Homo sapiens: one gene and its partners. The protein of the gene in region 3 interacts with the protein of the main gene of each other region in a pairwise test. Each region holds a gene or a part of one and is shown on either strand. Other genes may lie near its edges. The genes, in order: TSC22D2, RASSF2, PRMT3 and BEND7.

Region 1 (7,603 bases), on a different chromosome or scaffold from region 3:
GTAATAAATAAAACACAAATAAATGAAAACTTATGTAGGCAAATGTTACTGAATCAGAAAGAAAAGTGGCTCTTTAGATGAACTGTTATTTATAATGTGATAGGAAGGCTCAGGGTAAATCCATGGGTAATAGGAAACATGGGAGAGCCACCAAAACTCTTAAAGACCCCACTCATGCGCACCAGGTAAAATGCAGACTTTGCTCGCTTTAATAAACCCCATCTATTATTCTCCTTGTGTACTGATGACATAGAACTGGACATCAACAGCGCTGCATGACATCTCAGAGAGAGGAAAAGCTCTTGTAGAATGATTGTCTAATACTGAAAAGGCCAAACACACAACCAAAGCATGGCTACTTGCTTTCGTATAAAGTGGAAAGAACACCAGTGGCACACAAGGATAGATTGCTTTCAGTTTTTTTCTTAATGAGGCTTAAGAAAGCTTTATGCTGAGGAGACATTCGGCTGCTGTGGAGGTTGCGTTGGCTGCGGAGGCTGTGCTATCACTGCTTGCTGTTGAGAAGTGCTACCAGGATTGGCCTGTTGGGTTGGGAGTTGGGATAATTGATCATTGCTTGAAAGAGATTTTAACAGTGCATTTTCTCGTTCAAGTAAAGAGTTTCTTTCAACTAATTCTTTTATTTGTTCCTTTAAAACTTCCACTTCTTCTCTTACTGCATACATCAAATGGCTTTTCACCAGATCCTGTGAAAAACAAAATTAGGAATGTCAAAAGAGTGAAAAGATAAAGGTGGTGCTATCTGGTTCTGGCCTACTTGGTGCTAAGTTTTTATACTAGTTTTCCTGCTCTTGCTTTTAATGTTTCTGCTTTATCTTGACCGAGCCTATGGAAGATGGGTTGGAAAAAATCCAGTTCCCAACCAGAGCAGTAAGCCCAGAATTTTCTTTTCAAAGTTTGGGACGATTTCCAAAAAATACTAGCTTCTTAAATTGTCAACTAAGCTTAGAATTAAAAAAAAAAAAAGTTTAAAATCACATGCTTAAAATGGTAGATAAAGAGAACAAAGGAACAATATTCCAACGGAAAGCTGTTTGATGTTAAACTAGTCATAGTACTGCTTTAAAGTGATCTGTAATTTTGGACTTTAAAATTTTGGTATTTTTAAAAAAATAGTTTGAGACTAACAGTCCTGTAAGGTCTCACACCGGTAATCCCAGCACTTTGGGAGGCTGAGGCGTGTAGATCACCTGAGGTCAGGAGTTTGAGACCACCTTGGCCAACATGGTGAAACCCCGTCTCTACTAAGAATACAAAAATTAGCCAGATGTGGTGGTGTGTGCCTGTGCTCCCAACTACTCAGGAGACTGAGGCAGGAGAATCACTTGAACCTGGGAGGTGGAGGTTGCAGTGACCCAAAATCATGCCACTGTACTTCAGCCTGGGTGACAGAGCGAGACTATCTCAAAACAAACAAAAATACCAACTTTTTTTGTAGAGACGGGGTCTTGCTATGTTGCCCAAGTTGGTCTCAAACTCCTGGCCTCAAGTGATCCTCCCACCTCAGCTCAGGTGCTGGGATTACAGACACAATCCACTGTGCCTGGCCTACTTATAGCTTACTTACAGTCTACTTCAATCAGACCTCCAGCTGTTTTTGCTTTAATACTCTTTTTCACTCTAAAGTATTTTCAATGCTGAAATATCTGGGGAACATATTGTCTTTAAATATGTATGCCCCCTCACCAATGGCCCTTATCAATGATAATGCATGAAATGTGAGATATTCAAATGGAAGAAATATCTACTTAAATAGTATTTCTAGACTAAAAGTTCTCAACGTTCTAGCATCTTCAACTAAATCTCATTATCAAAAAACATGATTTGGTCATCTTTGGTTTAAATAACTTATTTGTTTTCTAAAACTGACAAAAGCTAAGTGTTCCATACAACCAACAATCTATGAAATGGGAGAACTGTAAACTTTTACTTACCATTGCTTGTTCTATTTTGTTGTCAATGGCTACAACACCTCCCCCAGATGCACTGGAAAAAATTAGAATATGTTATTATTCTAAAAAATTTAACCTCCCTTCCAACTCTTAAAAGAATGTAAAAGACATTTGTGTTTCACTTAAAACCAAATATACAGTAATTTAAAATAGCTTATTCTGTTCTGACAATTTCAGTACTCAAAGCTCTCATTTCTAAAATGAAAGTCTCAGTAAATAGATGATTTCTACAGGTCCTTTGTAGTGCCAACATTTCTAATTTGCCTGTAATACATGTATGCTACTTTAAAACTAACTCTCAATTGTATTAAGAATTTCTCTGTTCAGTGGTTTTAAAAGGATACATTTTAAATGGGCAGTGTCTTCTCCGTATCTCTTAAATTTCTACATTAACCAACTATACATTCTAATTGCCTTTCATGTAGAAATTCCAATAATTACTTATTGTAGTAAAATTCAGATGATGGCTTGACTTTTTTTTTTCTAGTCCCTCCTCTTAGTAAGACTTTTCTGGTATAAGTTTTATACTTTAACATCTAGTTTTTTAAAAAAAACTTAATGGCTTCTAAAAATGGTTCAGAAAGTCTTTGGGTAGGATTGGTTAACAAGAAACTCAACATTCAGCCGGGCGTGGTGGCTCACGCTTGTAATCCCAGCACTTTGGGAGGCCAAGGAAGGTGGATCACTTGAGGTCAGGAGTTCCAGATCAGCCTGGCCAACGTGGTGAAAACCCATCTCTACTAAAAATACAAAAAAAATTAGCCAGGCTTGGGGCGGGTGCCTGTAATCAGCTACTCAGGAGGCTGAGGCAAGAGAATCACTTGAACCCAGGAGGCAGAGGCTGCAGTGAGCCGAGATCACGCCATTGCAATCCAGCCTGGGCAACAAGAGCAAAACTCCATCTCAAAAAAAAACAAAAAAAAAAAAAACAAAAAGAAACAACATTCTGGCAGACCTACATGTATTTGACTGTAGGTTACTTGCTGGCAAAAATCACCTATAAGGTATGTGTGGTTTAGATCAGTTCTTCTTGGGAATAACTGAAAAGTTATCCAGCCTGTAAGCACATTCCAAGTTCAAATATCACCTTAGCAATTGTATGATAATAACACAGAAGGCTAATTGTCCTCTTTGGTGGTTTATATTCTACCATGTATTAAGTAGTAAGAATAGCTGGAATTTATACCCTTTTATTGTTTTTTAATGAATTTTATTTCTAAAAACAGTTATTAGGTTTTTAAAAATTACTCTTGTAAAGAAAAATCTGATACTGTAGCTTATTGTATCAATACGAAAAGATAATTTTTTATATGTTACTAAATATTCTTCATAAAGTATACTCCACCTAAGATTTTAGTGCTAAAATACCTGGAAACTACTTTACTTTAGATGGTGTGGACCCATAATGTTGTATCAGATTGAGGCTCAGAAATATCCTGTCCTGTGATATCCTGCTATTCACTTCCTATGGGACATCAGCAAATCACCTATTTAACTTCCCTGGATCTGAGTTTCCCCATCTGTAAAACAAGGGGTTGATGTCAATGCCTCAATGGACTTTCCACTTCTAAATCCTTGAAATCTTGAATCATTACATGGGAAACTACGTTTGTTTATTTGAGCATTAACCACATTAATTACAGCATACTACCTTCACTTCTTGCTGCTACTATTTCTAAGATGAAAAGAGGTTTTGTATATCTAATATCTAGAAAGGATTTATGGATCATTAACAAATACTTTATATGTGCTGGGCTTTAAATGCTTTTAGTGAGCTGTGCAAAGTATGACTATATGTAACTATAAACTACAGAACCACTAAGTCAACCATAACGCTTTAGTATATACTTCAGTGCCAGATACCATGCAGACATATTCACCACAAATACTGAACACATTTTGGCAAAAAAGACGGTGACAGGCATTTAAATTAGTTTGCTTGGGAATCCCAGATTATACTTTCTATATTTTTATTGACATGACAAGGAAAGATTGAATTACTTTTAAGTCATGTCATGACTTAAATCATTTGATTCCTTCAACACATTTGGTTTAAATAGCACACCTTAAATACTAACTACAACATCAGTTTTATGTATTAACAAGCAGTAAAAAAAACAAAAATTACTGGGGTTTTTTTTTGATAATTAAAATCAGTCAGCGAGTTTTAGAATGATTCCCATAGCTAAGGAAGAATAGTTAGCATGCTATTCTTTGAATGCTGACCTAACAAACTCTTGTCCTAAGATCTCTTTTATGACAACAGAAGAAACAGGTTTGCAAGGTATAAATAGATCATGATGAAGATGTATCCCTTAAATGGTGTTAATATTTCAACTGTTAGGTGTTGTACTCTAATAGAATAAATCAGTGTCAAATATAATTACTACCACTATAGTGACCTTTAACTATCTTGAAGGCTATTATTCAAGAATTCTATAACCTACTGCAGGGGTCTCAAACTTTAGCATGCACCAGAATCATCTGGAGGTCTTGTTAAAACTCAGGTTGCTGGGCTCCCCCACTCAGAGTTTCTGATTCAGTAGGCATGGAACCAGGAATCTGCATTTCTAACAAGTTCCCAGATGATGTGGAATCTACTGTCTGACTATGCTTTGAGAACTGCTGGCTTACAAATGAAAGTTATAGGAGGAAAAATTAAGAAGCCTAATTCTATTTTTAAAACTTTTTAGCCTGGCATATAAAATTCTTTATGACTTTGACCTCTGCCTTATACAGTCTGTTTTCCTCTTATACTCCATCTGCCTATTGTGTTATGGTCTTATACAACTATTTGTAGTCTGTGGAACATATGTTCTCTCGGGTTTCCTTGGCTTTGCAGAAACTGCTCCCTCAGCTGGAAATGCTCACAGTTCCAATTCATCTGGCTATCTTAGACCTGTCCCTTAAGATGCTCCAGTGCCATCTCTTCTGTGATGCTGTTTGATTTTCTAAGGTAGAGCCAATTACTCCATCCTTTCTGGGGTCTACCAATCTTCGCAAACTTTTTATAGTGCAAAAAGGCAGAATAGCAAATTCTGGCTCCTCCATATACTCACTATATGAATTCTGGGAAATTATTTAACCTTTCTAGACCTCAGTTTTTTCATTTAAAATAAGGATTATATGCCAATTGTGAGGATTAAATGAGTTTACATAATGCATAGTACTTGGCACACTGAGCACTCAATACAGACAGTGATTACTTTGAGTATTGTAATACTACCACTGTTGATCCTATTAGATTGAGCTCTTTGAGAAAGGTTCCATAACTTCTTCATCTTTGTGAATAAGTGAATTCAGTGCTTAGCACATAGTAACTCAATGCATACTGATAGTAATTAGATATGATAGATTTGAAACAATTAATGGTTCATATGAGGAAGGCATTAAAATTTTTTGAGTTCAGATAAATCAGTTCTCAAAGTGTAGTCCCTGAACCAGAATCATCAGCATCACCTGGAAACTTGTCAGAAATGTAAATATTTGGACCCACCAAGACCTTGTTAGAAATGTAAATATTTGGACCCACCCCAGATTTACTCTTGGGGCGGGGCCCCGTAATCTATTTTAACAAACTCTCTAGGCGATTCAGATAGAAACTAAAGTATGAGAACCACTGCTTTAGCCATATTTACGATGGAGATACCAATATGGTAGTCTTAAGCAAATAAGAGACTATTTTATTTCAAGATCCCAGAATATGGTTTAAAAATACTGTTTCAATGAGGGTATCAAGATGTTTTCTATTATGTTCAAAGTTATCATAGTGAGATTTGACTCTTTTAAAATGAGAAAGATCAACTGAAGCAGAATCAATAATTTCCTTCCTTCACCTAATGTTATAATACTATATACCTTGTTTTCTTTTTAATTATTATATTCAGCACATTATATTTTGATGGTTTAACCAGTTTCCAAACTTAAGCTCCCTAAGAAAAGGCTTCCTGTCTTTACTTCCAGCACAAAGTATATATACCCGGTACCCTACAATGGTGGTAGTATAAATATTTCAGATTAGTGTGTATGTATAGATACATACTCAAACTGAAATAAGTCAATTTTAAATCAAGTGTTACAATTACTGCTACAGAAGCATGAGGGAAAAATGAGTTCAGAATTTTCTTTTTTAAACTATTATGGTAAACTGGAAATGCTAAATAAAGTCAAAAGATAATTTTTAAAAATAAACTTTCTATTTACTATGAATCATTCTTAGAATAAAAATCAAACATTTATTAGCATTTACAGATGCATTAAAAATTGTGGATATGGAGAGAATGAACAGAAATATAGAGCTGTGGAAAGTAAGAAAGACCTACAAGAAAATATTTATTTACTGGAATTGCTGCTCCAAAATAACTAAATGAGCTTGAATTCAGTGTTTAAAGCTAATTATACTTACACTCACAGAAAAAGTATAACTCAGAGTATCAATGCTACAGTAAGGCAGGTTGGCTTTCCATGCTGTTCATCTTTTAATTGATCCTAACTGGCTCTCCACCACAGCTTTTCCTCCTAGGTTTCCTTACTCTTACCATGAGATTACTTGCAACATTACTGAGAAAGCAAGAGGATGGATGAAGAATTTCCAACTCTGTCACAAGTTAAAATCACTAAAGAAAAAGGTAATCTAATTTAATCTCTCTCTCTTTTTTTTTTTTGAGACAGAGTTTCACTCTCGTTGCCCAGGCTGGGGTGAAATGGCGCGATCTCAGCTCACCGCAACTTCTTCCTCCCGGGTTCAAGCGAGTCTCCTGCCTCGGCCTCCCGAGTAGCTGGGATTACAGGTATGTGCCACCATGCCCTGCTAATTTTGTATTTTTAGTGGAGACGGGGTTTCTCTATGTTGGTCAGGCTGGTCTCGAACTCCCGACCTCAGATGATCTGCCTGCCTTCGCCTCCCAAAGTGCTGGGATTACAGGCGTGAGCCACCACGCCCAGCCTTGATCTCTATTTTTAAAAAACTATGAGAAACCAACTTTTTTCTTTATCTGTAGTAATGTGGACAGAGACATGGTGACTACTTATTTAAAATAAAAAAATTCAGCCTGGGCAACATAGTGAGAACCCATGAAAGAAAAGAAAGAAAAGAGAAAAGAAAGCAAGCCCACGGTCCTAGTTACTCAGGAGGCTGTGTGGGAAGACTGCTTGAGCCCAGGAGCTCAGGGTTCATTACTGCACTCCAGCCTGGGTGACAGAGCCAGATCTGTCTCTAAAAAAAATAAGAGAACTACTTCTCTTTTTCAAAATGGACATATTTTGACTACTTTGTCTTTCCCTAGATATAAATGCTAATTAACAAATCAACAAGATAGAGGAAAAGAACACTTAATGGTTGTCTATTTTAGGGCAGGCACACCTTTATCTTAATGAGTCCTTACAATAAGCCTGAGCAACATTCTCATTTTACAGTTGAGGAAAGTGAGGTCAAGTAACTTGCTCAAAGACACAATACTAGGAACAGGATTCAAACCTGGACCTAATGTCAAAACACACATATTTTCTTCCATAATACTAAGACTGTGAAAAAATAATCTCTAATGACCTGAAATAAATCCAGAATTATGTGTATTATTAAGAGTGCTTTAACTAAGTACCAAATGTTAAGTTGTGAAACCATAAGCATG
Region 2 (7,603 bases), on a different chromosome or scaffold from region 3:
CAGTTTAGACTCATTGCTGTTGAAGAAATAACTCATAATTGCTTCTGGCATTCAAAAGGAATGGAAAGTAATAAGTTGGCCACAACAAGGGCAGGGGCAGCTTTGGAAGGGACACTGACAGTGTTCTCAGCGTTGCAAGGATGGAGTCCTCATCCAAGCTGAAGAAAGGGTTACAAGCAGGCAGTCCAAGCTGAGACCCTGGTTTGCCATCATAACTGGCAAATAACTTCTCAAAGCCAAAAAGGACAAAGGGAGCAGCTCAGAAAAACATCCAAAATCAACAGAGGATTTGGCTAGAAAGGAGAATCATATTTGACCAATTAGGAACAACCCATGGTGAGAAGAGCATGGGCTCCCTGGGACCCAGTAGAGATAAACCTCATGTTCTGGGGAGGATCGTTTTAAGGAAGGACAATTAAAATGGAAAATCTGAAAGAACTTCCTATTGTAATTTAACTCATATACTTCTGAACCACAGAATGGACCTGGTCAGAGCTTCTGGGGAATGGTGAACACTTGGCACCCAGAGCAGCGACTCCCACTCCCTGATTTAAAGCCTTCATTCTTGCTGAAGCAGGAACCGGTCTCAGCATCCTTATTTTTTTTTTTTATTTTATTTTTTTGTAGAGACAGGGTTTCACCATGTTGCCCAGGCTGGTCTTGAATTCCTGAGCTCAAGTGATCACCCGCCTCAGCCTCCCGAAGTGCTGGGATTATAGGCACGATCCACCACGCACAGCCTCAGGATCCTTCTTAAGACAGCAGTCTAGGCATTCACTGTATTATAGCTGACATCTAAATGACACCATTTACCATTCCTGAAAATTCTACCAAAGTATTTTGCAGAGTCAGCCAGGACCAGCTTGATGCCGCAGAGAAGGGAGAAGAAGCAGGCGGACCGAAGGACCCTTTAGCAGCCCAAACCAAAGGCCACAGGCTCAAACGAAATCTTAAAAATCATCTCACTTAGGGAATAGAATAGTCTGGGGGTCAGGGTCAGGCTGTGAAATGGGCTTGGCCATTGGCAGTCAAATACAGCAATAATACAGTATAGTATAACAAATACAGTATAGTATAACAAATACAGTACAGTGTAACAAGTACAGCTGGGCATGGTGGCTCACACCTGTAATCCCAGCACGTTGGGAAGTCAAGGTGGGAGGATTGCCTGAGGCCAGGAGTTTGAGACCAACCTGTGCAACATAGTGAGACCCCATTTCTACAAAAAACATGAAAATTATCCAGGTAGGGCCAGTATGGTGGCTCACCCCTGTGGTCCCGGAACTTTGGGAGGTCAAGGAAGGTGGATATCTTGAGGTCATGAGTTCAAGACCAGCCTGGCCAACATGATGAAACCCCCTCTCTACCAAAAAATACAAAAATGGCTGGGTTTGGTGGTGGGCACCTGTAATCCCAGCTACTCAGGAGGCTGAGGCACGAATCGCTTGAACCCGAGAGGCAGAGGTTGCAGTGAGCCGAGATCGCATCACTGCACTCCAGCCTGGGCAACAGAAAAAAAAAAGGTCGGGGTGGGGCGGTGTGCACCTATAGTCCCAGCTGCTGGGGAGTCTGAGTTGGGAGGATCACTTGAGCCTAGGAGGTTGAGGCTGCAGTAAGCTGTGATTAAGCCACCGCACTCCAGCCTGGGAAACAGAGTGAGACCTTGTCTCAAACAAAACAAAACAAAAATATGGTGATAGTGCTGAAAAGCAGAGCATGAAACCTGCAAAGTTAGATGAAACCAAAGAACCTTAACCAGACATCCTAGCACCTATGGGGTGGGCAACAATTTTCCTCCTTAAATCCCCTTGGAAAGAAACCAGACCAGCCCCAGGGCTGGCCACATAGTAGGTTTCTCTCAATTGTAGAGAAACATAGATTTGGCTGTGGAGTTTAGCAAAATGTTCAATGTGGCCAACAGAGAGGGCTTGGTTTTCATTTAAACCAGAAAAAAAGGTCACTGTGGTTTTGGCTGAGAGGCGAGCACACTCCACCCAGGCTGGGGCCGAAGGCAGTCAGCATCAGCAGGTTTCAGGATGGAGACAGGCTAGTCACTTGATCCTAAAACTCAAGTCCCAGAAAGACAATAAAGAGGGCATGCCTTGCTAGAGGCATTTGGCGGCGCATTTGGCGGCTTATTCAGCCATGGAGGATAAGGAGGGATGGACTAGGTCTTCCCAGCCCTTCTGGTGGGAACTTAGACTACCACCATCTCACCAAACCCTGGCTCCCCGTATGGTCTGCAGGGAGCAGACCCCTGGCTGATCTCGCTTGGCTGACTCTGACAGAGCCTGACATTCCTTTTCCTCTTCTAGGTTCCCCCAAGATTCAGAGAGCTTTGGTCAGAAGGTTCAAGTCATAAATGCTTTGGAGTGGGGCTATTCTATGAGGAGTGGTCCCAGTGGGGAGGGTGCTGGGGCATGGGGCGCCCTGTTAGAAATATACAGGCTGGGCCTCACTAGCCACTAGCAGCTCCACTCAGAGACTCCTGAGTTCTCCCTAAGGGAGGACTCTGACTCAGCAGCTCCCCTCGTATGACTCAGCAGCTCCCCTCCTGTGACCTCATCAGTGATTGCAGTGACAGGAAGGGGGCTCAATCACAACCACATCTGCTGCTTGTTCCTCATTCCAAGGCTAAGGCAGGTGGGCAGTAGAGGTAGTAGGAGGAGGAGCCAGGGTCAGGGCTGGCTGGAAGAAGGCAGCATTTATCTGCTTGAGAACACATAGAACACCCAAGCATCCCAGTCATCTCCCTGCCCCGTCTCTCCTCACTCACCCCTGAGCCCCCAGGTTACAGCCAGAGTGCCAGGAGGAGGAGGATGGAGGGGGTCGAATGCGTTCGTTGTCATCCTGCATCTGCAGGCGAATGGGCCGGCGCAGGCCCCAGGAGATGTTCAGGAGCCCCTCCACAATGAACTCGTCTTCTTCCTGCCCACAAAGCAATCAGAGTAGTGAGCCTAGAAAAGCCCCCACAGAAGCCAAGACCATGCTGAGGGACAAATGACACATTCTTCACATGTCCTGGCTGGGGGCCCCCAGACTGTATTCACAGGATAGGGGCAGCTGCCCAGTTCACACCGCAGCTCTGAGATACTTTCTGACGTCAACTACTCCAGATCCTGAAGCTGACCTCACAGGTCAGCACAAAAGTTGCTGTGAAATTCAAATACATAGGTATAAATTATAAAAAGCATTGTTTTTCTTTTTATCCTAATGACTTTTAAAGAAAGCGGAATACATTTCTTAAAATAAGTGAGATTAGCCTTGTTAACAGAAGCAAGAACTGGAGTTAGCTACGTCCCATCCCCTACTACGGAAAATGATGTCTCTTTAGCTACAACATCTGTTTAGCAATCCAACCTGGTGGTTGAAGGAAATTTAAAGCAACATTTGCCGAAGTTTATTCTACAGAACACTAGCTCCTCTAGCAGATGAACTGCTGTCTTTAAAAGGGTGTCAAGTGATCATGAGCTGGGAGAGGCTGTGCTAATCAGATTTCCAAACAGCAGAATGTCCCAGGTTCTGTAATAAACTAACGGGCTAAATGACAACTCTCCAACAGGTGAATAAATCTTGCAGGAGTCCCCAATTTATACTCAAAGGTTGCTGACTAATTAGACATTAAATGTAAAACCATTCTAGAGGCATTTATATGTTCTATCCCGAAGAATTGGGACTCGCTTATGACTATGAAATCCTTTAATCATGAAGCACTTTTAATCATTTATTCTATAGGACATAACCCAGGAAAGCTATTTAAGAACTAAAATCTTGCATGGCCCAGCTGCTGATTAGTAAAAGCTTGAAGGGCAGTTCCTAAAAGAATCGGTTCTCCTCCCTCTAGTCTCAGAAAAACCTTTTTGGAGCCATGTTTTATGGGCTATTCAAGTGTTAGATCTGGGTCATGGAACACATCTTCAGGACAAGCCCCATAGGTGAAAATAACATCAGCCCATTGAGCAACTAACTAACTTGGGCCCCAAAATCATCCTCAAAGAGGGAGGAAGGAATAAAAGAGGGAAGGAGAGAAATGAAACAATTTTACGGTGCTTAGGCGTCTCAGGGAGGAAGGCTTTATGTAAACATAGGCAATTTACATGGCCTTCCCCTGGTCAAGGTGGGCATCATTCCTTTACACAATTGTAGGTCAAAATTTAACCCAAAACAGGATTTTGTCTAAGTGGAGTGGTTTGAGGGACACAGAATAGGCCACTACATCCCACATACTGTCCCCAAGCAACCTGCCCTAGCAGCTGAAATTCCACCATCTGTTATCTGTTTCTATGGTTAAATCGCCACAGCTTGATAACCTGAAAATGTGTTTCAAAGGGCATTACACATAGGGACCTTTTTATCAGTCACAGGCGCTTGAGTATAAAGTACCCTACCAGACTCCTTTATAACTCATCATCTATCTGATAACAGGCTTTAGAGAAATGGATACAGGATGAGTAAGCTCAGTTTCAGGATGGGAATCAGATGAGTAACAAAAGCAACCTAGGATGACCAAGTGTGGGGACGGGCCCACTATCAGTGGGGACTCTGCTAACATCCAGAGCTTATGTGCTTTGCCCAGGTCACTGCAGTGATAGGACTTGGGCCCAAATGTTTAAACACAGAGGACTGGGTGGGGTTCCCGAATTGCCCAACGAGAGAACGTCTGCTTGGGAGCCACCTGGAAAGGTCATTTCATGAAAGCTCCCTCTGGAGAATCTCCCCCATGAGACTGGGCTAGCCCTGCCACATTTCTACAGGAATGTCTCTGGAACACATCTCTGAAACATTCATCCTTTTTGGAACAAAACTGGGCCTGGAGTCTTCTTCCAAAGAACCCCAAGGACTCTCACTAGCAACCTAAATAAGAAGCAGGAGAGGCAGGGTTCTCTTGGGACCTCAGGGACCTTCAGACCCAGGACACATGGTGACAAGCCCTGGACTAGCCAATCAGGGCCGTCCCTGGGGACTCCTTACCTCCCGGTGCCGGAGCTGTAAATTCTGGCCTTCATAGTACAAGTTGTAGGTCTTCAGATGCAAGAGAAGTTCATTTCTTAGGGGGAAAAATAGAAGAGATATAACATTATCAGCTGAAGCCACTTATAATGCAGTTGTTCCCTCTTTCTCTCACCTCTCACCTGGCCTTCAGTCACCCCACTTTGGGTAACTGTCCACATGTACATACACACACATGCACATGCACACAGAGTTCTGCCACCACCACCCCATAACCATCTTCCCCCAGGATCAAAGTCAAGAGTGAGCACCACCCCAGAACAATGCTTAAAGTAAGGAGCAACTCCAGGACACCAAGGCAGGCCTCGTCTACCGACAATACTCCCAAACTCAAGCTGAATGAGCAGGTGTTAATAAGCCATGGATTCACTGAGGCGAGCACTTCAGAGCCCACACACAGCGATTCTCCTGCATGGCTGTGGCCTTTTCTCCCTCAAGCACGCTGTGAGTGAGGAAAGGACAATAATGATAGGCCTTCACAAGACTCAGAAGCTGGCTGCGCGCAGTGGCTCATGCCTGTAATCCCAGTACTTTGGGAGGCCAAGACCAGCGGATCACTTAAGGTCAGGAGTTTGAGACCAGCCTGGCCAACATGGTGAAACCCCATCTCTAACAAAAATACAAAAAATTAGCCAGGCGTGGTGGTGCACACCTGTATTCCCAGCTACTCAGGAGGCTGAGGCAGGAGAATCACCCAAACCTCAGAGGCAGAGGTTGCAGTGAGCTGAGATCGCGCCACTGCACTCCAGCCTGGGCAAAAGACTGAGACTCCATCTCAAAAAAACAAACAAACAAACAAAAAAAAAAAAACTTGCAAACTCCCATCAGCATCAGAATGGGTGCATAAAGGAAGCAATAGCCACACAACGGAAAATTATCAGCGAAGAGAATGTGAATGAACTACACAACTACACGCATGTGTGTGACTCATGGGAATTATAGGATATGTGCTTTTCTTGTGTCTAGCTTCTTTCACAAAAAAGCACAGATCATATTCCATTGACAGAAAGTTCAAAATGGAGTGTTAGAATTCAGGATAGTGGTTCACCTTGGGGAGTAGTGACAAGAAGTGGGCATGAGGTGGCTTCTGGGCCCTGGCAATACTTTTTCAGTTCTAAAAATTAAAAAATAAAAACCCTTAGAAACTCCCCCTCTGAAGCCCAGCACTGGACCTCCTTAGCCACCAAGTTTTCCAAGTGGCTGCACTGGGAGTACAGCTCTACTGCACGTGGCCAGAGAGGAGATTTCACCCCCTTTGTGATCAGGGAAATCCCTCATCAACCCTGAGAATGCACAAGTCAAGTTTCATCTGAAAGTGCATGTTTTGCACTCCAGGTGGGATGAGAGGGGCGAGAGGTGGAGGGGGCCACTGTGCGCTTTTGTCTAGTCTCAAGTAAGAGGTGGCAGAGTTCAGCCTCTCTGAACCCAGCCATTCAGTGGAGAGATTTTGGACCACGCCAGGAGTCAAGACCCACTGGAAATGCCAAGAAAATCCTGACAAGTTAAACCTAGATAAAGCAGCATGATTCTATGCAAGCTGAAATAAATTTGTGGAAAATGTGATTCGAAATCACCTAAGACAAAAGGCCGTTTGGTACTTTTGAACACACAGATCTGAAACCGGGAGAGAAAATCATTGGTTGGTAGAAGTCCCTGGGGAAATCTGTCCACAAAGAGATAAGAATGGTCAGATGTCACAAAACATGTGTCAAGTGTGCCTAAGGACTTCCAACAATTTAGTCCCAGATAAATTAAATATTTCGTTAAGATAGAGAAATCCCAGCTGGGTGTGGTGGCTCACGCCTGTAATCCCAGCACTTTGGGAGGCCAAGGCGGGTGGATCACCTGAGGTCAGGTGTTCAAGACCAGCCCGACCAACATGGTGAAAGCCCACCTCTACTAAAAATTAAAAAATTAGCTGGGTGTGGTGGCGCATGCCTGTAATCCCAGCTACCTGGGAGGTTGAGGCAGGAGAATCACTTGAACCCAGGAGGCAGAGGTTGCCATGAACTGAGATCACGCCACTGCACTCCAGCCTAGGTGACAGAGGGAGAGTCCTTCTAAAAAAAAAAAAAAGAGATAGAGAAATCTTATGCTGGAACTTCCAATTCAAGGGTCTATTTTGGCTCAAGCCCAGTCACATTAGCAAAAAGCCTGAGCTCAAGAGACTTTAGTGCACAGAAAGCAATTAAATTGTCCCCTTCTATTCAGAGGGCATTAGCCAGACCCAGAGCAGCCGAGGGACACACTACTCCAGCCAGGACTCCCTGGGAACACAACGGACAGGACGGGGAGCAGTGTCTGAGTCCATTCTGGCTGCCGGACCATAGACTGGGTGGCTTCTAAAGAACAGAAATTCATTTCTCACAGCTCTGGTGGCCAGGAAGTCCAACGTCAGGGTAGAGTCAGTGTCTGGTGACAGCCCTATCCTCACAGACAGTGCCTTCTCACTGCGTCCTCACACCGCGGAGGAAAAACAATCTCCCTTGGCCTTTTATAAGGGTACTTAGATCTAATCACATCCCAGAGGCCCCACCTCTTATACCAGCACCTTGGGGTGAAGTTTCCACATAGGAATTTGGGGGAGACACAA
Region 3 (7,603 bases):
GACAGCGAGACTCCGTCTCAAAAAACAAATATAGTGTGCACATAAAAAGTGGCTGTAAAATGAATGAATATCATTTACTTCAGAATGAATAAGATACTTCCCCCCTACTATTCTTTCTCACCTGCTTTAACTGAAAATGGTTTTTCCAGTAGAAATACTGTTTGTTTCCAGTGTGTTTTGGTGCTCTGAGGGCCCGTAGAGAACACGACCTGAATTGGTAAAGTTCAAAGGTATTTGATGAAGTACAAGATTTTTAATATCATGGTACATTAATCTACGACATCAAACACAAGCCCCAATTGCTTACAGCAGCAAAATGCTTATGATTAAACACCTTGGGGCACAAAATAAAATATAATGTACTTCTGTAATAATTAATTCTTATGAGATAATTCATGATACTTACCCTGTTGTGGCAATTCTTCTCAAAATATATATCAAAGTAGCCAGCAATTGCCTGTTTTTTAAAAAAAGAAATATAAATGCTTACTAAATGAATTACATAATATAATAACTCATTACTGTCTCTTAAGACATGGCAAATGATAAACCATTTCAGAGACTAAATACCTCTTAAACTCAATATTTTTCCTGGAAAAGATGTTGTAAGTAAAAACGAAGTAATGTAATTTGGCTTTTCCTCACAGAAACAACATAATAAAGGTAATAAGGCTAATCAAATAATTAGTACATTTTATTAGAGAAATAATCATGCTAGACCACTGAAAGGTGAACACACATGGAGAGAGAGACTCAGCTGGCCCCTCACTGATCCTCACTCGCCAACTGAGATGTCCACCCACGCATTAGGCTATCTTGACTTCTCCAGCTGTAGTCAAGTGTTCAGACAACTGCAGCGGCATGAAAGATGCCAGGAAGGACCAGCAAGTGCACTACTCAGTTAAGTCCAGTCAGGATTGCAGAATCGGAAACAAACAGATAAAAATGGTTTGGGCTTCAAGCCAGAGTTCTGAGATGGGCTATTACATAGCAATAAATAATTAAAACATCCTATTTATACAAAGCCAGTTCATTTAATTTCTTCTAGTCCAGTATATCTGTTTTTAAGTACTATGAATATTTTTGTGATGAAATAAAGATTTTTAAAATGTTACTTATTTTTTTTTTCCTGAAAAAATGAACAGTAGTACTCAAATCTTATGTTTAAGCAAGTACTCAAAGGAGAAACTCCAAAGTGAGCTCTAAGGGTTATTGTGATAGTACAAAAAGATTTTTTTTTTTTTGACATGGAGTCTTGCTCTGTTGCCCAGAGGGATCTCAGCTCATTGCAACCTCCGCCTCCTGGGTTCAAGCGATTCTCCTGCCTCAGCCTCCTGAGTAGATGGGACCACAGGCGTGCGCCACCACACCTGGCTTTTATATTTTTAGTAGAGACGGGGTTTCACCGTGTTGGTCAGGCAAGGCTGAGTAGATGGGACTACAGGCGTGCGCCACCACACCCGGCTAATTTTTATATTTTTAGTAGAGATGGGGTTTCACCATGTTGGTCAGGCTGGTCTCGAACTCCTGACCTTGCGACTCACCCACTTCGGCTTCCCAAAGTGCTAGGATTAGAGGTGTGAGCCACTGCACCCAGCCTACAAAAGATCTCTTAAAGAAATTAACATACTCAGATAAATACATAATTTTGAGTTTTTTGGTTAAATTTAAATACCATTCCATTTTCTTTCACTATTGGAACTAGCTGGACTTAATCACTTTTTAAAGCTGGCATTACATTAAGCTTAGAAAGTGTAAAAAACAGGACACTGATTTTTTGAAAAATCATGGTAAAGCTAATTTGTGTACTCTGCTACTTTTGTTAAAAATGTGACATTTTATTGATCTGGTAGGGTTAATATGGATTAGGTCCAAACCAAACTCAATATTTAACCCTGAGGTTCACTGCAATTTAGATACCAAGAGAGAATCAAAATACTAGTAATAATTCTGCCAAATAGAATTATAAAACAATGTAGTACTCAGCCACAGATTATCATAAAAACCACGTGGTTAATTAGAATATTTCTAAATATAACTTTATCAGTTGATTTCCAGATACTTATGATACCCCTTCACAGACCAATTCAACTGTTTTCTTATTTATTCCTGTATGCCTGTCTTGTTCACCACTATACTCTCAGTGCCCAGAGCAGTAACCTGGCCCATAGGATACAATACAATACAATATTTGATGAGCAAATGTGTTTATTATACATTCTGTTATGTTAGTTACGATAGTATATTACAGTTTGCCTTATACTGCAATTTATTTAAGAGCAAGGCATATGTATAACTCACTTCTATGCCCCTTACCCAATACAATGTTATATAGTAGGTTCTCAATAAATTTTAGCCAAATTAAAATTTTTAGTCTTCAGTCTCAAATATGGCTAGCTTTATTACATAGTCAGTATACTTTATTAAAGCATTGACTAACTGAACTTGAATGGAACTAATAATTTTTAACTCTGAAAAGCATGGAACATGTGGGACAAATATGGAGAGGAGAGAGCTAGAAAAGATCTAATTCTGTATGTAGGAAATGCAGAAGTCTCAGCCTAACCCCCAAATTACGCATTTTCAGGTGAGATCCAAACCCACACAGCAAAAGCTTAGAGCATTGAACTAAAATTTGAATCACTGCTGCAAGTCTCAGGATTAACCTCTGGATAAAACATGCATGGAAAAAAAACCGAAACCAACAAGTAAAGGCCTAGAGAACTGACGTGAGATTGGAAAAATCTGTAAAAGTCTCAGACTAATCCGTAAACTAGGTATGTGTAAGACAGCCTCAAAACAGCATAACAAAGGCTTAGAGAATGTGACTGAGACTTGGTCAACTGTCTGCTCGGACACTAAGACAGAACTTATGGTCTGATTTTAACTGGGCTTGACTGCTAACAACAAACATCAACATCCTTAAGATTTTAACAAGACACACAGTTTACACAACATAGCATGCACAACATCTAAGGTGCAATCTCAAATTACTCAACATACAAAGAATCAGGAAAATTGAACAACTCTCAGGAGAAAAGACAAGCCACCTCTGAGATAATCCAGATGCTCAAACTATCAAGCAAAACTTTAAAGCAGCAATTATAACCATGTTCCAACGGTGACAGAAAACACAATGGAATGAATCAAAAGACAGAAATTCTCAGCAGAGAAACCATAAAAAAGCACCAAATGAAAAATTTTCAATTGAAAATTATAATAACTGAAACTTCCGGGTTGAATAGCAGAATGGAGATGACAGGGAAAAAATCAGTGAATTTGAAGATTGATAGAAATTATCCAATTTGAAGAAGGGAAAAAGACAGCAATTAAAATGCATGTTATAGAACCTTGGAGACCTATAGATCTAACGTGTCATTGGTGGTCCAGATGGAAAAGAAAAAGACACTGATGGAGAAAAAAAAGTTTTAAAATTCTATATCTAGACAGAATGAATGAAGGCATTTTCAAGTCAAGGAAAAGTAAAGAAATTCATTGCCAATAGACTTCCTCTAGAAACATTTTAAAAGAAGTTCTTCAGAAGGTAAACTGGAACAACAAGAACAGAAAACCCATAGTTCTAAAACATCCTTTTGTTTTCAAAATTTTTAGTGTACCTTTTAAAATTGTTTTAAACTCATGTAACAGCCTCTCATCTTTCTGTAATTATACTTCTATAACTGTTATATTTATTGCCAGTCTTTTTTTAATCAGAATTAGAAATGCTTCTCTTCATGTATCTGAAGATGTCACAAAAGCTGCTTTTAAACCCAAATTTTCACAAAAGCTCTTATTAGCTTACTAGGATTTATTTTTCCCCACATTTTTTGGGGGGCCTCCCAAAGCACTGGGATTACAGGTGTGAGCCACCACGTCCAGCCACACATGCTTATTAATCAATCTCCAAATCTGTGTATGAATTTCAGTTAAAAATTTCCAGCCCTTAATAATATAGTGAAAGAAATACTGGGAAGTTCTGGGTAACCAAAAAATAAGTTTTAAGACAAAGAAAAATGACAGATATAGTTAACTTCAGTTGTAAGCACTGGAAAGAATCTATGACAAATATCTGAAATTGCATCTATGTGAAATGCCTCACAGTATCTTTGAGTCTTCAAGCACAGTCACATTTCTAATGAGGTTTGGTTTACAGTAATACTCAGTTCCACAGCACACATTAAACAGAAAGCAGAAGCATGAGGAGAAGTTAGGAAGGAATTCACCTAAAATTCAAACTGTGTGCAGATAATCTATCTACTCACTAGACAGCATTCGTACAGTTGAGAAAGTGGAAGATTGCTGCTCTGAAAAAAACAAAGGGAGTTTCTGGTTTTAAAATGGGTGTCTACCCTCAAACACCAACATGATCTAGAATGCCCCTTAAAGAGACAGGGTTTGTGGTGTTACCTTTTTTTCTTTTCTTTTCTGTGTGATTCTTATTTTTAAAAATTTTTATTTAATTTTAGAGATGGAGTCCCGCTATGGTGCCCAGACTGAAATCAAACTCCTGGGCTTAAGGGATCTTTCTGCCTAAGCCTCCTGAGTAGCTGGGACAACAGTTGCATGCTACTAACTCTTAATTAAAAGAGATTAAGAAAAAAAAAAACCCCTTCAATTTGAAACATAGTAATATAAAACCAAATGAATTATGATTAGTGTTTTTATTTCTGCAAAGCTATTAAATAAGGAATAATGATATAACCAAATATCAGCTGATTTAGGAATAAATGACTTATTTTGTCAGGAAAATATAAACATGCCACTATTTTCAATTACAGTTTGGCCACCTTGCTACCATCACTTTGACAGGCTATCTTAACATCTTTTAAATGTTAATTTCAATGAATATACATTATCTCTGTGGAAGTCATTCAAATATAAGAATAAACAACCATAGGAAATAATGACTAATAGGCAATGGCAACAAATAACTAACTGGAGCTACAACTTGACATATGCTCGTAAAAGATCAGAGAGGTCTGAAGGCTGACTGCAGAAGAAATTTCTCCTTTGTCTCACGTATATATCTTGTTGGGGCAATGAGAACTGCTGAGGGGGAAAAAAGCATTAAAATCTATCTGTAGGAGTTGGGTTAATCTGCAAAGGCAAGGTCACAGTTAAATAAAATTTCACTGAATTATACCACAGTCAGAAAAATTTATAACTAAAAGTTTAGTTATAAAAGTCCCTTAGAGTGAGAGAAGGGAGAATGAGTGGTAAGTAGTAAAAAAACAAAAACAATGATAGAAGAAAACAGAATGAAAGGAAACTACGTATACATAGTGAATTTCTGGGATAGCTTGATCACTCTTGATATTTTGTGAGAATCCTCGACAATTACTTTGATGCACATAGGAAAATACAAGCATGGAGCTCTGTTGTACATCTTAAATATTCCTCAGCATGTAATAGTTTCAGAACTCATCTTTTTGTGGATTTCACAAAAAGAAAACTCATGGCATTTGTAAACTGAATCATGAAAAAATCTGTTTTAAGCCATGTTTTGTTTATATGTATAAAGGTAAATGCAGTTCATTTAATATACACTCATTTGAAGAACAATGATTTGGGATAAAAAATGACTTTCTCAGGTATTTTAGTGTGATGAATATTTCTTTAAAGAGGACACATTGTGTGTATGTAATAGGATGGCAACCAATGAAATAAGATCAGACTAGACCTTATGAGGAAGAAGGAAATTAAAAATTATCATTATCACTATCACCTGCAGGGAGTAATTTATCATTTCTGTTCTTCATTGGTATCATGTTCCAACAGCATGTGGTTACAGCAGATACAATTAGGCAGCTGGCCACAGAAGTAGGAGGATAATGTGCTTTTGATGGAGTTTATCCAAGCATGGAGATAGAGTGCTTGTAATCCATGCAGCAGAATCACTATAACAAAAATACAATTCATTTTTCGTTGAAGTATTTCTTTCAAAATCTCAATATGGAATGCAAAAGCCAACTGATGAGTCTGAAGCAAGCAAAGAAAGAGTAAGCAGACAATGCCATAAAAATGACTGTTATAGCTTAGATCATCATATATAAACCAAGGAGATGAAAATACAAACATAAGCTATACGAGCTGCCACATACAGAGCATGAACTGTGCTAGTAATAAATGGCGTTTAAGAAGACATAATCAACAAATATGAAAATTATATATTATGATTTTTTCCCCAATTGTAACTATACATTAAATTACGGACTCTTTCTTTTTCAATTAATTTTCTATTGTATCCCAAGAGAAAATCTGCACCTTTTCTTTCATGATTCTCCTCTAGGGAACAATACACATTAAGTGCCATATACGTCTCAAGAGATACTGCCAGATTGAGTGGTGGTAAAAAATAGACAAAGCAATATGGGAAGTAGTAAAACAGGCAATAGTCCAAAAATATTTTTAAAAATACTTTTATTGAAAAACACAATGTAATTTATTTCTGATCTACATAGAATATTTCAAGATAACTGAAACTCCTTTTAAATTTATTTGGGATTGCTTCCTTGTAATTTCAAAATTGCTTATTAAAGTGGTTTTAGGGGGCAAAAATCATCTTCAGAGTCTGTAACACGAATACTTTCATTTTGACATTTCATAAATTGATACCTCACATTTCTTCCTAGCTATAAACACAAAATTGTTTTATACAACCCATATTCATTGAAATTTACTGATTTTTCATTTTAGAAACTGCTTTATAATGTACATTCAGAAAAGTGCACATAAGTGTACATCATGCTGAATTTTCAAACTGAATACAGCTGTGAAACCCACACCCAGATGAAGAAACAGAACATCTCAGCACCCTAGTAGTCCCCCTCATGCACCTATGCCTCTAACGACCTATCCTAATACTCTTAAGCAAAGATTCATTTTTCCTATTATACTTCAATATATAAAGAATCATACATCAGGCAGTCCTTTGTGTCTGGCTAATTTCCTCAATATTGTTTATGAAATTCATCTACATTACTGCAGATGATTCATTTTCATGGCCGTAAGGTATATGTGACTATATAATTTAGTCTACTGCTGACAGGCACTTGAACGGTTTTTGTGAATATACATAACATGGCCATTGGGTATATACCTAAGAGAACTACTGGTATGTAAATATTTACCAGTTTTGTTCACCTTTATTCCTTCCTGAATTTCTGGCCTTCCATCAGGGATCATTTGCTGTTTGCCTGAATATCCCTCGGTACTTCCTTTGGCACAGGTTTTTAAGGCAAATTCTTTCTCTTCTTTTCTGCTTATCTGAAAATATCTTTATTTCAGCTTCATTCTTCTTCTTCTTTTTTTTTTTTCTTGAGATGGAGTCTCACTCTATTGCCCAGGTTGGAGTGTAGAGGTGCAATCTCAGTTCACTGCAACCTCCACCTCCTGGGTTCAAGCAATTCTCCTGCCTCAGCCTCCCGAGTAGCTGGGACTAGAGGTGTGTGCCATGATGCCCGGCTAATCTTTGTAATTTTAGTAGAGACGAGGTTTCACCGTGTTGGCCAGGCTGGTCTTGAACTCCTGACCTCAAGCCACCTGCCTGCTTCGCCCTGCCGAAGTGCTGGGATTACAGGCATGAGCCACTGTGCCCAGCCAA
Region 4 (7,603 bases), on a different chromosome or scaffold from region 3:
TGTTCAATTAGACAGAATTAATATATTCTGTAATGTTTTTAGTATCATTTTTAAAAACTAAAGATATTTACTTCAAAATAGTGAACAGTAAATTCAAAATAAACTTCCTTATTTAGTAACATAACACATATATTAATAAGCTAAATATCTAACTGGAAAGCACAAAACGGCTAGGTTATTGTGCAGTTACCAGTTCTACAGAGAAACCTGGCTTATCCTAAGTGCAATCATTATGTTGATCCATATATATATATACATATCCTTATATATACATATATTGATCATTATAATTGATCCTAAGTGCAATCATTATATTGAATGTGCTGTGTGTATTTGTAGGAGCTGTATTTTTCTTAACAGATGCTGTCTGTTAGCCTTTTCTTTATCTTACAGTTTAAATTTCAAGCATTTATTAGAGTAACTGCATGAATGTTTACACACACATACCCTGGCCTAAGATTTTTTTTTTTTTTGAGACAGGGTCTGCCACTATCACCCAGGCTGAAGTGCAGTGGCACAATCTCGGCTCGCTGCAACCTCTGCCTCCGGGGCTCAAGCAGTCCTTCCACCTCAGCCTCCAAGTAGCTGGGACCACAGGCACACACCACCATGCTGGGCTAACTTTTGTACTTTTTGTAGAGACGGGGTTTCTCCATATTGCCCAGGCTGGTCGCAAACTCCTGAGCTCAAATGACCCTCCCATCTCAGCCTCCCGAAGGGCTGGGATTACACGTGTGAGCCACCATGCCCAACAGTGGCCTAAGATTTTATCTTTTGGGTTTGAGAAAAAAAAATTCATTTCTCTTCATCTTTATGAAGATACTGGCTGATGCACAGTTTAAGAAGATAGTGTGTTTGAAATAGCTCCTAACAGATATCAGCATCCTCTGATATTATTATTGATAGAAAATATTTTCTTTTTCTTTTTTTTTTTTTTTTTTTTTGAGATGGAGTTTCACTCTTGTTGCCTAGGCTGGAATGCAATGGTGCCATCTTGGCTCACCACAACTTCTACCTCCTGGGTGAGCCGGGTTCTCCTGGCTCAGCCTTGTGAGTAGCTGGGATTACAGGCATGTGCCACCACGCCTGGCTAATTTTGTATTTTCAGTAGAGACAGGGTTTCTCCATGTTGGTCAGGCTGGTCTCGAACTCCCGACCTCAGGTGATCTACCCGCCTCGGCCTCCCAAAGTGCTGGGATTACAGGCGTGAGCCACTGTGCCCGGCCAAAAAGATTTTCTATCTGTGCAATATTACAGACATCTTTAATATTTATTAAGTACTCCCAGTGCAGTATAGAAGTTCTTTCATTTTAAAAAAATGTCCTGAGACGGGAGAAAAATCTTAAAAAAAGAAGTCAGTGTAGGTGAAGTGGGATTTCAAAGTGGCCTGTGACCTTTCGCACACAGTTACGCTGCAGGGGAGGTGGCAGTGCGTTTGGCATGGGAGGAGGGCACGGTGGGGAGGTTGCACTTCCGCCCTTCCAGTGCTGGTACCGCCAGTGACCTCGAGTGGCAGGGACCCCTCGGTCATCACCAGGCTGATGTGATGGGAGTCAGAGTGCCAGAAAGACAAAACCCCCTCGCTTGCCATGCTGCCACACTCGGCGCCTCTCTGTCTCCTCGGCCGTCCTCTCTGAAGGTGATGTCTCCAGCGGCAGCGTGTCATCCTGGAGGACATTGTGTCAGCAGTGAAGCCCTGCATCCCTGCCAGTCATCCTGAAGGACATTGTGTCAGTAGTGAAGCCCTGCGTCCCTGCCAGTCCAGGCTTTCTTCCTTGTCCTTGCCCCGCCTGGTGAAGCTGACAGACAGTGAGCAGAGCGCTTTAGTGACCTGCCCATTCCTCACGGGTGGCTGTGGCCCATCAGAGCAGAGGGGTTCCGCGGTCCAGTTCTATCCTTGACCTTCTGTCTCAGCCTGTTTCCTCATCACCTACTCATTCAGAAAATGCTTCCAAAGAGGGAATGTCATGTTTGTTCCTGATGACACACTCTCAAGAAACCTCTTTCATCATAAGCGACTTGCAGAAAGAGATTAAAATGAGAGGCACCAGGAATAGGATGGGTTTTTTCAGACCGTAGTCAGTTTTCCTGCCTTTGCGTTTTACAGATTAAGTTCATAGAGTCAGTCATCTTTCCCATTTCCAAAGAAGGGTTGTTTTTCTTTCTCTTCTTTTTGGTTAGTGAACTGTTTTCTCTTTCACTAATTTAGAGTGCTAACTTTGGCCCTGTTTCCATTAGGAGATGAAAGCATGGAAATAAAAAAGCAAATTACAGGGATGAGAAGATTGCTGAACGACAGCACTGGGCGGATCTATCAGCGAGTTGGCAAAGAAGGAGAGAAACTAAAAGAAGAGCCCCAGGACCTGGATTTAGTCTGGCCTCCACGTTTGAACTCCTCTGCTGAGGCCCCGCAAAGCCTCCACCCGTCTTCACGTGGTGTGTGGAATGAGCTACCGCCCCAGAGTGGACAGTTCTCAGGGCAGTATGGCACCCGTTCTAGAACCTTCCAAAGCCAGCCCCACCCTACCACGAGCTCCAATGGTATGGTTGTCAACAAACATTCAGAAGGCTCTCATGGGGGTTTGTACTGTTCTATTTCTAAATATTCAGTGTGTTGAGTTCAATTTATTAAACCCTCCCATAATTACCTGCCTTTGCTGAGTTACTTTAAAAGACAGGGAGACACAAAGGAAAGAGTTGAAGACTATTAAAAAACAGAATTGAGAATTAGGAAAGACAGGGGGTTCTATGTTATAAGTGAAGATTTCCTGGTAGAGATTTTAGCCCTTTAAGAGGTTAAAGCGATCATTTTGTGCCCATGTATGGATATTATTGTCACAAAAAAAACCTGAACATTAGGGCAGAAAGAGCTCCCCACTGTCTTTAAAAGAAGCTTCCTGGTCCTATGGTGTGTTACTAACATATCCTCTTGGTTACTCCTTCACCTTACTCATTATCAGAAGAGTCCCAGATAAAGGCGGGGGCGGACAGGGGTGGGGGGCCGATAACCCAGCATCCCACGTCAGTACTGAACCCAGTGATCCATATTTTGTAACATGCTTCATTAGCAATGGAAAGTATTCCTTTAAAGTAAAATTTTCTTAATTTAAGTTTCCTAATTGTTAAGAAAAGAATCAAATGACAATTTTTTTTCAAAGCTTAAGGAGAAAAACCTGATGCTTTTTGTGGTCATATTAGTTTTCTATCCGGCCACACTGGATGCTATAATATTTGTTCTATAAACTCTGTAGAGATGTGCAGATCTATAGTTTTCACAAAGAGAACAAGAAAAAGGTAAGAAAGCATTTTCAGTTTCCTTAAGAAGTTAAGGATTTTTTTCCATTCATTTTCATTTCACAATATCCTTCAAGAAAAAGAGAACTGTTTTGACTTTTTTTAAAAACACAATTTGTGGTTCAGAGGCATGAAAAGCCATCCTGAGACATTGATGAGACAGCGAAGGACCCCAGAAATGTATGGGTGTCTTCTCTGCCTCTCAGTAGTACATAAGCCAGTATCAAAGTTCCAATGCTGGCATGCCTCCAGGTTAGAGGGACACAGCTCTTTAAAGACTCCTCCATAAAAATAAAAAGTCAGTTCTCTTTAAAATTAGAAAATGATTTATAACAAGCTGAAAAGGGTTGGTTTTGTCTTCTAAAAATGATAAAAGATGGTACTTAGAATAGTGACTAGAAATATTCTTTAAGACCTTTCTAACTCTACTACCATGGAAGAGACAATAAGAGAAATAAAATACCCTTAGGTATGTATGAAGTTAATAAACCCCACATCAGTAAGTTTTGGGTGAACAGTGTTCTGTTTCCCAGTATACAGTAGGGACAGTGGATTTACTTTGAAAAGTATGAAGTTAGTAAAAGTTACAAACATAAATTCCCCCATATCAGTTTGAAAATAGATATTTTATGTTTTCAATAGAAATATGGCTAGGCGTGGTGGCTCGTGCCTGTAGTCCTAACGCTTTGGGAGGCCGAGATGAGTGGATTGCTTGAGGCCAGGAGTTCGAGACCAGCCTGGCCAACATGGCGAAACCCCATCACTACTAAAAAATACAAAAATTAGCCGGGCGTGGTAGCGCATGCATGTAGTCCCAGCTACTTGGGGGGCTGAGGCATGAGAAGCGCTTGAGCCTGGGAGGCAGGGGTTGCAGTGAACCAAGATCATACCAGTGCACTCCAGCCTGTGCAGCAGAGCGAGACCCTGTCTCAAAAAAAAAAAAAAAAAAAAAAGAAAAAGAAATATATTACATATAACTGTGACTACTTTGGTATTTCATTGGGATTATTTATAATTTTAAAGTTGTAACATTACAATTTTGCTACAATTTTGAATGTAAATAATTGTACCACTACAATCACTAAGTTATCCTGAAGTATTTCATGGTTTTGCTCTGGTGAATTTTTCTATAGTATTCCTAAATAATGCATATTACAGGATTTAAGGTATATAAAGTATAATAAAACATATAATTGGAACAAAACCATGGAACTTACCTTGCTGGCCTGTGAGACAATGTGAGCGCTGGAAGTCTCTAAACTGCTCCATTTTATGGTGGTCAGGTGAACAGGTGCTGGAGGGAACCCACTGTAAGAGCAATGTCCAAATGTCCCATTTTATTCTAAGGACAATAGAAGATACTTGCTTACCTATGAGAGAAACAGAATAAGATAGGTTTACCAAGGAAAAGGCATTAAATTTAAACAGTGCAAAAGAGGCTGTGGCAAGGGAAAGATAAGACATGGGAATGGAGAAAAGAGGTAGAGAGATTTTCTTTGTGAAGCTGAAGAAAAGCCAGCCAGCCCACCAATACCCTCGAACGCATCCAATTCGAATATATCCTCCCATCCCTGCTCCTCTGTGCTTCCCCACCCCAAACGCCACACCCAGAGAGTATTCTAAAAGTTTTCATGTGTGCACAGTTCTTTGTTTTTGAAATAATGTGCTTAATATCAAAACTATTTTCAATAGAACTCATATAATTTTTAATATGAACTCTTAAACACAGCTACCAAATTTTTTTTGCAAGGCTGTCCTCAGGGCTCCTTTTTTGTGTGAACTAGCATGAGTGTGTTTCGAGTGAGTTTTTGAGGTGTTGTTATTTGAGATGAACAGCTCTGACAATAGGGAGGCCTGCTGTGCCCACTCATTGTGTGTGTGTGTGCATGCGGGCTCCCGCACCGCGCCACAGCACGCACGTTACAGTATGGAAGCCTGGATAATTAGATAAAGTCAGACCCCCAGATTTAGGTTGTGATAATTAGTGGGTACGTTTTCCTTAGGCACAGCTTCATCATAATTGCACATGCTTCAAAATCCTGCCAAGATACTTTCTTTTTTCTCTCCACCTCTTTATGATTTTTTTTTTTTTTTTTGGTTTGTTTGGAGTATGTCATTCTTTTCTTTCATGCTCAGGAGAACTTCCAGTGGTGAATTCATCAGCTGGATCAAACTGCTGTACTTGTAACTGCCAGTCAACGTTGCAGGCCATTCTACAAGAACTCAAGACCATGAGGAAATTAATGCAAATTCAAGCAGGTACAAGGATCAGGCCTCGGAATGAGTCCTTTGATTTTTAATGCATATCTGACATCTTCCGTTGGAATGTTCATTGTGCTTTTATTAAAGCCTTCTTCTCACCTTGCTGTCTTGCTGTGCCTTTTCAAGTATCTGTTTTTTCAGCTTTCTCTACAATCCATTTTTCCTTTAGCAAATCAAACATATTTTGTCTTGCTACTGATACAGCTCATATAATTATGTGTATGTACTCGATAGACTTCATTCCATGATCTCCTAGTACTTCACAAATGTCAGTTAATTAAATTTGGGAACAACTGTGTATGGAGGGGTCCTTTAGGAAGCATGGGCTTCAGTGTTCAAGCACTAAGCAGATAAGAAATGTGGAGCCCCAGGCTATGCTTTGTGGCTTTTCTCTCTCCTATTCAGGATGCGGAAGCTCAGAAATCCGCCGTGTTCTGTCGTCTTTGTTTATGTGACTCCTTTTTGTTTTCACTGCCATCAGGCAAGTTGAGGGACGGAAGAGCAGTGGATTTGTAATTTGGGATTGGATGCCAATTTCTGCTTTTGGAGCTGTGTGGCGCATCTGAGCTTCCTATTTCACGTCTGTAAATGGAGAATTCATATCTAACTCACAGGGCTGTTGTCAAAATAGAATGATGTAGTAGCTGTCAATGAACTTTATAAGGCATGGTACAAGCCTAAGCTGTTTCATTAGTGTGGTCTTAAAGTCCATGAAGCGTTCTATAGAAGTCTGGAAGTCTACGTCTTCATTATAGCAGCTGTATTTTCTGATCTTCACAATTGAGGGAAAACAGAATTGTTTTTGTCACAGGTACAAGAAATAAATCATTGTATTAAGTTTTCCCTCTTGTCAAGGGACATCACCACTTGATCTAAGCCATGTCGTGACTGGCTTTCCTGCCCTTTCATCAGGATGGTAGTCCGGAAGGTCGTCACTCAGAAGCTGTTCAGGATGCCATTTAGTGAATTCTAGTATAATTTTAATATTCAGTGATGTGGTTTTGATATAAAAAGCTTAATTAATACTTAGATATATCAGTCACCCAAGATCACATTAAAGTAATGTGAGCTACTTTCTGAAAAACAGCATCTTTTTATTTGAGATGGAGTTTCACTCTTGTTGCCCAGGCTGGAGTGCAATGGCATGATCTCGGCTCACCGAAACCTCTACCTCCCAGGTTCAAGCGATTCTCCTGCCTCAGCCTCCCTAGTAGCTGGGATTACAGGCATGTGCCACCACGCCTGGCTAATTTTTGTATTTTTAGTAGAGATGGGGTTTCTCCATGTTGGTCAGGCTGGTCTCAAACTCCCGACCTCAGGTGATCTGCCCGCCTCAGCCTCCCAAAGTGCTGGGATTACAGGCGTGAGCCACCGCGCCGGGCTAAACAGCATCTTTTTAAGCACTGAATTTGGTTTTACCCCAAGGAAGTATTTTGCTCAGGTCAGTAAGCATTGGACTCACCTTGTTCCACTACGATAATCTGTGTTCTTATTAACCTGGAGGAGGTTAACATCTCCTAAATAAGGAGCTCAGAAAGAAAGGTTACTTTATGATGTTCGGATTCTTTTCTCCGAGGAGGAATTTGTTAGCACTTAAGAAAATATGCATATGAAATTGTAATGATTTGTTTTGTCACTTAAGCTCCTTACTACTGAAATGGCAAACTACAAATTGCAACCATTTAAATCCTTGACGGAAGCCTTTTTAGAATCTATTAAGTAAATGCCACTTTGTCGCTATGTTTTCTTTTCTGAACCTTTGCAGATTAGGGAGGTAAACGATTCCAAAGCTGTAGGATGGCACAAAGGATAAACTGAATAAATTACTCTCCTTTAATTTTCTTAAACTTAAAAATTTGTGTCATGTGGGTAGATTTACTTAAGGTTTAATGCCTGAAGACTTAGATTTAAATTACATTTAGAAAGTTTCACCTTTCTTTTAAGAAGACAGGGAATAAGACCTAGAGGTAAGATCTGGATGCCAGAGACTTGGGCTGTGTCTAGATTTGCAAAAGGAGAAGAAAAACTCAGATAGTCCCCGTGTTCC

The links.
Region 1: the proteins of PRMT3 (region 3) and TSC22D2 interact in a two-hybrid assay, tested with the Homo sapiens proteins (one study listed by BioGRID).
Region 2: the proteins of PRMT3 (region 3) and RASSF2 interact in a two-hybrid assay, tested with the Homo sapiens proteins (one large-scale study listed by BioGRID and IntAct).
Region 4: the proteins of PRMT3 (region 3) and BEND7 interact in binary tests that used the Homo sapiens proteins (3 or more experiments, as listed by UniProt).

The regions. Positions count from the first base shown.
Region 1 is NC_000003.12:150,451,480-150,459,082, reverse strand, and holds part of TSC22D2 (TSC22 domain family protein 2), read right to left. Parts: intron 2,008-7,603; coding exon 1,956-2,007; exon of another isoform or gene 1,951-1,955; intron 708-1,950; coding exon 447-707; 3' UTR 1-446. UniProt on the Homo sapiens protein: Reduces the level of nuclear PKM isoform M2 which results in repression of cyclin CCND1 transcription and reduced cell growth.
Region 2 is NC_000020.11:4,793,039-4,800,641, forward strand, and holds part of RASSF2 (ras association domain-containing protein 2), read right to left. Parts: intron 5,048-7,603; coding exon 4,972-5,047; intron 2,929-4,971; coding exon 2,777-2,928; intron 1-2,776. UniProt on the Homo sapiens protein: Potential tumor suppressor. Acts as a KRAS-specific effector protein. May promote apoptosis and cell cycle arrest. Stabilizes STK3/MST2 by protecting it from proteasomal degradation.
Region 3 is NC_000011.10:20,486,773-20,494,375, reverse strand, and holds part of PRMT3 (protein arginine N-methyltransferase 3), read right to left. Parts: intron 458-7,603; coding exon 407-457; intron 210-406; coding exon 122-209; intron 1-121. UniProt on the Homo sapiens protein: Protein-arginine N-methyltransferase that catalyzes both the monomethylation and asymmetric dimethylation of the guanidino nitrogens of arginine residues in target proteins, and therefore falls into the group of type I methyltransferases.
Region 4 is NC_000010.11:13,494,716-13,502,318, reverse strand, and holds part of BEND7 (BEN domain-containing protein 7), read left to right. Parts: intron 1-1,639; exon of another isoform or gene 1,640-1,809; intron 1,810-2,238; coding exon 2,239-2,541; coding exon of another isoform or gene 2,542-2,580; intron 2,581-5,430; coding exon 5,431-5,553; intron 5,554-7,603.